Homo sapiens: one gene and its partner. The protein of the gene in region 1 purifies or fractionates together with the protein of each later gene. This does not show direct contact. Each region holds a gene or a part of one and is shown on either strand. Other genes may lie near its edges. The genes, in order: UPK3A and UPK1B.

Region 1 (3,817 bases):
GCACACCACCATGCCCGGCTAATTTTTTGTGTTTTTAGTACAGATGGGGTTTCATCATGTTGGTCAAGCTGGTCTCGAACTCCTGACCTCCAGTGATCAGCCTGCTTTGGCCTCCTCCATAGTATTGGGTTACGGGCGTGAGCTGCCATGCCTGGCCCATCTTGAAATTCTTAATTGTTGAACAAGGGCCCACATTTTCATTTTGCTCTGGGGCCCACAGATTATGCAGCTGGTCCTGGCCCATCTACGTGTGTGGAAGTCACCCACCCAAACCCCTTCGTCTTACAGGAAAGGAAACTGTGCCAGAGAGGGAAGGTCACCCAGTGGAAAGCTGGGGCCCAGCATGAACAGAAACCCTACCAAAGCCTTGCCATCTGCAGCCTCAACTTCTGCTTTTTTTTTTTTGAGATGGAGTTTCGCTCTTGTTGCCCAAGGTGGAGTGCAGTGGTGCAATCTCGGCTCACCACAACCTCTGCCTCCCGGGTTCAAGCGATTCTCCTGCCTCAGCCTCCTGAGTAGCTGGGACTACAGGCGCCCCCACCACGCCTGGCTACTTTTGTTTTTGTATTTTTAGTAGAGACGGGGTTTCACTGTGTCAGCCAGAATGGTCTCGATCTCCTGACCTCATGATCCGCCCGCCTCAGCCTCCCAAAGTGCTGGGATTACAGGCGTCAGGCACTGCGCCCGGCCCATTTTTGTATTTTTAGTAGAGACAGGGTTTTGCCATGTTGGCCAGGCTGGTCTCGAGCCCCTGACCTCAGGTGATCTGCCCGCCTCAGCCTCCCAAACTGTTGGGATTACAGGCGTGAGCCACCATGCCCAGCTTCAGCCTTTTTCTTTTTCAGTTTTCTTTGTGATGCCAAGGAGCAGGCTTGGAGTCACGGAAGGCAGAAATGCAAGGAAGACAGATGCATTAGTGCTCAGCAACTATGCCACGTGTGTTACATGGAGGAAAGAAATGGAGGGGAGCTCTAAGAGGGAGCGCCTAGAAGGGCAGCTTCTGATTCTGAAGGCTTCATGGATGCAGGAGGTGGCAGCTGATCCAGGGAGGGGTCCTGGGGGGGGTCCTATTGGCCAAGCTCAGCACTGTCCTGTTGCCCAGAGCCCGCTCAGTAGCCGTCTACATTTCCGTCTCCTGGAAGGGCCCCCGCTGCCGTCTCCCACCCCTAGGCCATCCTACATCCCCCCACCGCCTCCCTGTGGGTGGGGCTCACAGGAAGCATAAAAGTCACCCTGGCTCCGTCTCCTTCCAGGTTCAAGTATGTCCTGGTCAATATGTCCACGGGCTTGGTAGAGGACCAGACCCTGTGGTCAGACCCCATCCGCACCAACCAGCGTAAGTGGTGGGCAGTGGTGGTGGTGATGCTCAAGGGGACCCGAGAAGGCGGGGCCAGCCACGGCGGTGAGAACCAAGGCTCCTCTGTCCCTGTGAAAGCCTCCCAGGCCAGGCAGTGATGAGTAAAATGCTCCTTAAAGCTGTTGAGCCAGGCCAGGTGTGGTGGCTCACATCTGTAATCCCAGCCTTTGGGAGGCTGAGGCAGGTGGATCACGAGGTCAGGAGATCGAGACCATCCTGGCTCACACGGTGAAACCCCGTCTCTCCTAAAAATACAAAAACAAAAGTAGCCAGGCGTGGTGGGGGTGCCTTTAGTCCCAGCTACTCGGGAGGCTAAGGCGGGAGAATAGCGTGAACCCGGGAGGTGGAGCTTGCAGTGAGCCAAGATGACACCACTGCATTCCAGCCTGGGCGACAGAGTGAGACTCCGTCTCAAAAAAAAAAAAAAAAGAAAAAAAAAATTAGCTGGGCGTGGTGGCACGTGCCTGTAATCCCAGCTACTTGGGAGGCTGAGGGAGGAGAATCGCTTGAACTGGGGAGTCAGAGGTTGCAGTGAGCCGAGATCACGCCACAGCACTCCAGCCTGGTGACAGAGTGAGACTCTGTCTCAAAAAAAAAAAAAAAGTCGTTGAACCTGGAACTTCCTCCTTCCTCCTTTCCATCCTTGAGGGCCAGGTGTGGGAACAGATCAAGGTGCAGGCCTTGGTGGCATTTGGGCTGGGGATGGGTGTAAGCGGATCAAAGCCGGCCCATTCCTCCGTCTCTCCAGCCCTTACAGTGGGTTGGCCTCAAAGGCACGCGGAGCTGACCCGGCATTTACGTCCTAACCAGCCCCTTTGCTAAATCCTCATAGCAGCAAGCACCCTATGGCCAGGTAAGATGTTTCCAAGGCCTAAAACCAAGATGGCAAAGGCAGCAAGGAACCGCTCTCCTTCCCTGCACACCTACTCCTTAGCACCTGGGCGGCTTTCCTGAGGTGGAACGCCAGGGTGCTGCGCTGTTCCTTGCTCAGCAGAGACCCAAAGTTCATATACAGAGTCGAGTCTGCTGAATGACAGGGGCCACGCCAGGGTCTTTGATGGTAATTTTGGGCAAATGATATCCTAACTTAAGACCTCCTCCCGCCACACCTTGGCCCCCAAGACGAGGCTGTCTGGCAGGATGAGTGTCAGGGTCCTGTGCATTTCACCTGCAGAGCCTCCTGTTGAGCCCATGTGCACCCCCAGGGGCGTGGGGGGCTCTGAAAGGTTGCCTGAAGTCACACGCGAGTGGGTGGTAGAAAGCCTTGTGTGTGAGTATGTGAGTGCCCGTGCCTGTTGTGGTATGTCTATGTGTGTGTGTTTGTGTTGCGTGTGGCGTGTGGTAACTGTATAATGTAGTTTACGGTGTTGCGTATGTGTGTGAGTGGTGTGTGAGTGTGAGAATGTGTGTGGTATGTGGTGTGTGGAGAGTATGTGAGGAGTGTGGTGTGGATGAGTGTGACAGTGTGTGGTGTATATCAGGGGTCCCCAACCCCTGGGCCATGGACCAGTACCAGTCCATGGCCTGTTAGGAACGGGACCGCGCAGCAGGAGGTGAGCAGTGGGCGAGTGAAACTTCATCTGCATTTGCAGCCGCTCCCTGTAGCTCGCATTACTGCCTGAGCTCCGCCTCCTGTCAGATCAGCAGTGGCATTAGAGTGTCACGGGAGCGCGAACCCTGTTGTGAACTGCGCATGCCAGGGATTAGGTTGCATGCTCCTCACGAGAATCTCATGCCCGATGATGTGTCACTGTCTCCCATCACCCCAGATGGGACCGTCTACTTGCAGGAAAACAAGCTCAGGGCTCCCACTGATTCTACATGATGATGAGTTGTACAATCATTTTATTATATATGGCAAAGTAATAATATAGAAATAAGGTGCACAATAACTGCATATAAGGTGCTTGAATCATCCCGAAACCACCCCCAGCCCACTCCCGTCTGCAGAAAACCTGTCTTCCACAAAACCGATCCCTGGTGCCAAAAAGGCTGGGGACTGCTGGTATATGTGGTGTGTGGTGGGGTTGTGTGTGTGAATATGAGGGTGTGTGTGGTTAGTGTGAGAGTATGTGTGGTGTGTGAGTGTGAGAGTGTGTGTGGTGTGGGTGGTGTATGTGGTGTGTGGTGGGGGTGTGTGTGAATGAGGGTGTGTGTGGTGTGTGTGGTTAGCGTGAGAGTATGTCTGGTGTGTGTGAGAGTGGTGTGGGTGGTGTATGTGTGTGTGGTGTGTGGGTGGTGTGAGAGTGTGTATTGTATGTGTGTGGTGTGTGTGGTGTGAGAGTGTGGCAGGTGTGTGTGTGAGTTTGAGTTGTGTGATGTGTGTGGTGTGTGAGTGTGAGAGTGTGTGTGTGAGTTGGAATGTGTGTTGTGTGGTGTGTTAGAGTGTGGCAGTGTGTGTGCGTGTGTAAGAGTTTGAGTTGGTGTGTGGTGTCTGAGTGTGACTGTGTGTGTGTGGGA
Region 2 (3,817 bases), on another chromosome or scaffold:
TAGTACAGTATCAATCATAATTAACATTTATTAAGAGTTTACCATAAGCCAGGCACTGTATTGAGCACATTAAGTATATTAACTCATTTAATCCTTAAAAAAACTCTATGAGATAGGTACTATATTCCAATTTTACAGTTAAGGAAACTGAGGCTTAGACAGTTTAAGTAACATGTCAATGGCTACAGGGTTCACTAATGACTAGTAAAGTAGGAAGTGTAAAAATTCTTTTACAAACTGTAAAATGTAAGTTGTAAGTTATCAATACCTTCAGCTGTCATTTGGGGATTTCTTAGTAAATGTAAGATATGGTACACTTTCCGTATCTTCTTTCTCTATAAAATTTCAGTTGCTACATTGATGGCTCTAGTAGGGACCACGAAAGAGAATTTTGTATCTCTCATCTGCTGACAGGACAATTGCTGTGGCGTAAATGGTCCATCAGACTGGCAAAAATACACATCTGCCTTCCGGACTGAGAATAATGATGCTGACTATCCCTGGCCTCGTCAATGCTGTGTTATGAACAATCTTAAAGAACCTCTCAACCTGGAGGCTTGTAAACTAGGCGTGCCTGGTTTTTATCACAATCAGGTGAGTCCTCTCTCCTCCCAAGACTTCCCAGGAGGTTCTGCTGCTCTTTATGAGAAAAATATTGGTCAACTGTAGGAAATAGTCTTTCAGTAAGGAATTCTACATTCTTTTCCCTAAACCTCATGTTAACTATTTCCTTCTCTGTTAATAAACTGCAAATGCTAAACCAGGACTGATAGGGGCAAATTTACATTTTAATAAAATTAACAAAACATGAGAATTGCAATAGCAGAACCCAACTTTGTTTAAATGAAGACAATTTGCACAATGTATGGAATTGGTATGTCAAGAAATATTTACATTAAACAAAGTTTTGCTCTAGTTTTGCAAAATGTAAATTGGAAGGGATGATGTGCAAAAAGAATGTTTTGCCAATTCCAAAGCAATGACTATTGCTGAGGATAAATGTAGTAATTACACATCCACATTCCTTATTCAATGGTAAAGTAGGACAGTCTTAATAAACATTAGGTTGGTGATTTGGATGGAAGGTAGTTTACATACAGATAGTTTTTGAAAAAGTTTCCAGGCTGATGAGGATAATGTGATTACGATCATGAAAACTAACATTTATTGTGTACTTACTAAATGCCAAACACTGTTTCCAGTGCCACACATACACTATCTCCTTTAATGCTCAGTAGTAGGTGCCAGTAGGATCCCTGTTTTACAAACGAAGAACTTAGACGTAGAGATACTAATAAATACCTTGCTGAGGTCACACAACTAGTAAATGTCCGTCTTTTCAAAAAACTCTCTGGCTTTTGAAACATGAGTTTTCTGCCTTCAAGCACAGACTCTAAGCCAGTGAAGACTTGTTAATATTCCCCAAAAGCCCTGATGAGAACCTCCAGGTACTTGTAGTCAGCATCTGCTGACCCTGTACACTGAAACGCTGTGCTCTGCTCAGGGAGTTACCTCTTTAAGGAAAGCTAGTTGTGTACCAGCTCATTAAATAATTGAGAAATGTCAGGCTGTTTTGTTTGGGAGCAGTACAAACTGCATGTTCAGATTGAGGGACATGGCACTGTTGCTGACAGGGTGCCTGGACTAGAACTGGATGCATTATTCCAGAAAAGGGCATGGGAGTGTTCTAGATTATTTTGCAGCAGTGTCCAGAGCAACCCTCATTGAGCTTTACTGCAACATTGTCTGGCATTGTTTTAATCAATTATATTCAGACTGTTATTAAAAATTAAATTTGCTGCTTATAATCAAGGTGTACAATATAATTATTCTCAGGACTATAAAAGGCTTTTGATATTTCAACACTGGAACTGCTCATGCAAACAAATCTTGATTGGATTGTAATTGTGTACAAACTGTATTACCTCTTTGAAAGGGATAAAAATAGGACATTTGTCTTCAGATAACCAGTTTATTTCATAGTTATACCTTTTTTCCTAGCACATATAATATTTTAGTTATGAGGACAAACCTGAAGCTTTTCTCAAGTTTAGATAGATGAGAAATTGAGGAAAAGATACAAATGAACTATTTTCCTCTACCTTGGGACCTCCACACCCATTTTGACAATGCTTCTAACACGTTCCCTTACAGTTCCCTGGCCTCATCTGTTCTAACAATTCCACCTCCACTACCCTACAGTTCCCTGGCTTTATCTGTTCTAACAACTCCACCTCCACTACCTACCAACTACAAATTCATCATCACTCAGCCCTACTCCTCCACCAAATTCCTGAATTCTGAAATTCCTCTCTCTGTTCCTGACTTCCTGTGCTCCTTGTTTCTCAACCTCACTCATTCTGCTCCTTTGACATAATCTCTTATCTATTAGTCCTTTCTGATTCTCCCTAGCCCAGCCTCCCAGATTCCCACACACCACCATTCTCCCTGACTCATAGGTCTTGCTAAGTCCCCTCTTGCCATCCTTTTCCACCAAGAAAAAGGTGCTACCCCAAGACCTGGTATACTTTATTTCTATTATTGCATTCACTACCTGGAACTATATTTGTTCCCAAGTCTATTTTTTCTGAGTCTCCTTGAGGACTATGTATTATTTGATTCTACAGATTTGATATTTTTAGTACTTAGCATAATGCCTGGCACAAAGCAAGCACCGACGTTTGATAGATGGGTGAATAAAGAAGTGAATAGTGAATGGTTTTTCTTTTTCTTTTTTTTTTTTTTTTTTTGAGATGGAGCCTGTCTCACTCTGTCGCCAGGCTGGAGTGCAGTGGCGCTATCTCGGCTCACTGCAACCTCCACCTCCCAGGTTCAAGTGATTCTCCTGCCTCAGCCTCCCAAGTAGCTGGGACTACAGGTGCACGCAACCACACCCAGCTAATTTTTGTATTTTTAGTAGAGATGGGGTTTCACCATGTTGGCCAGGATGGTCTCGATCTCTTGACCTTGTGATCCACCCACCTCAGCCTCCCAAAGTGCTGGGATTAAAGGAGTGAGCCACCGTGCCCAGCCTGGTTTTTGTTTTGTTTTGTTTGAGAGACAGGGTCTCACTCTGTCACCCAAGCTGGAGTGCCATGCTGCAATCACAGCTTATTGCAGCCTCAAGCTCCTGGGCTCGAGTGATCCTCCTTTCCACCTCAGCCTCCCAACTAACTACAGGCATGTACCACCAGGCCTGGCTAATTTTATTTTTTGTAGAGATGAGGTCTCACTGTGTTGCCCAGGCTTCACTTTTTGACAACCATATTGTAGGTTTTCAGGATCTACAATGCACAAATGTGCTGCTATAGCTGTGAAGACTAACAAAATTAGGGAAGTCACTATAAGCTTGTTAATAGTAGAAATTAACTAGAATTTCACACAGCATGTCAGATGCAAATATATATATATTCTATGTTATGGTTTATGTGACTCAGAAATGCTATGTGCAAATTGTGATCACTATACCTCAAAAATGTTATAATAAAATGAAGGAAGATCAAGTAAAGTACCACTAAATTGACTAGCATCACGAAAAGGCACTAAATGATGGTGAAAAAAATGGGGCTTCTGTCTGTGAGCTTCATGAAGGCAAGGCCCATTTCTGTTTGCCACAGCTAAATGCCCAGCCAGTACTTGGCACCTGGCATAAGTGGGCCCTTATATATATATTATTAGATGAACGACCACCTCCCAGGATTGTTGGGAGGACCAAGGAGTAGCAGATATGGGAGTGTTTTGTGAACCATCAAGTGTGTTGCAAATTATACTATTGTAAACATTAATGTTCCATTCATTCTGTAAATGTTTATTACGT

Evidence for each region.
Region 2: the proteins of UPK3A (region 1) and UPK1B purify together in Homo sapiens (affinity purification with western blotting, with the first as the bait; one study listed by BioGRID). This does not show direct contact.

The regions. Positions count from the first base shown.
Region 1 is NC_000022.11:45,287,808-45,291,624, forward strand, and holds part of UPK3A (uroplakin-3a isoform 1 precursor), read left to right. Parts: intron 1-1,253; coding exon 1,254-1,336; intron 1,337-3,817. UniProt on the Homo sapiens protein: Component of the asymmetric unit membrane (AUM); a highly specialized biomembrane elaborated by terminally differentiated urothelial cells. May play an important role in AUM-cytoskeleton interaction in terminally differentiated urothelial cells.
Region 2 is NC_000003.12:119,193,805-119,197,621, forward strand, and holds part of UPK1B (uroplakin-1b), read left to right. Parts: intron 1-414; coding exon 415-594; intron 595-3,817. UniProt on the Homo sapiens protein: Component of the asymmetric unit membrane (AUM); a highly specialized biomembrane elaborated by terminally differentiated urothelial cells.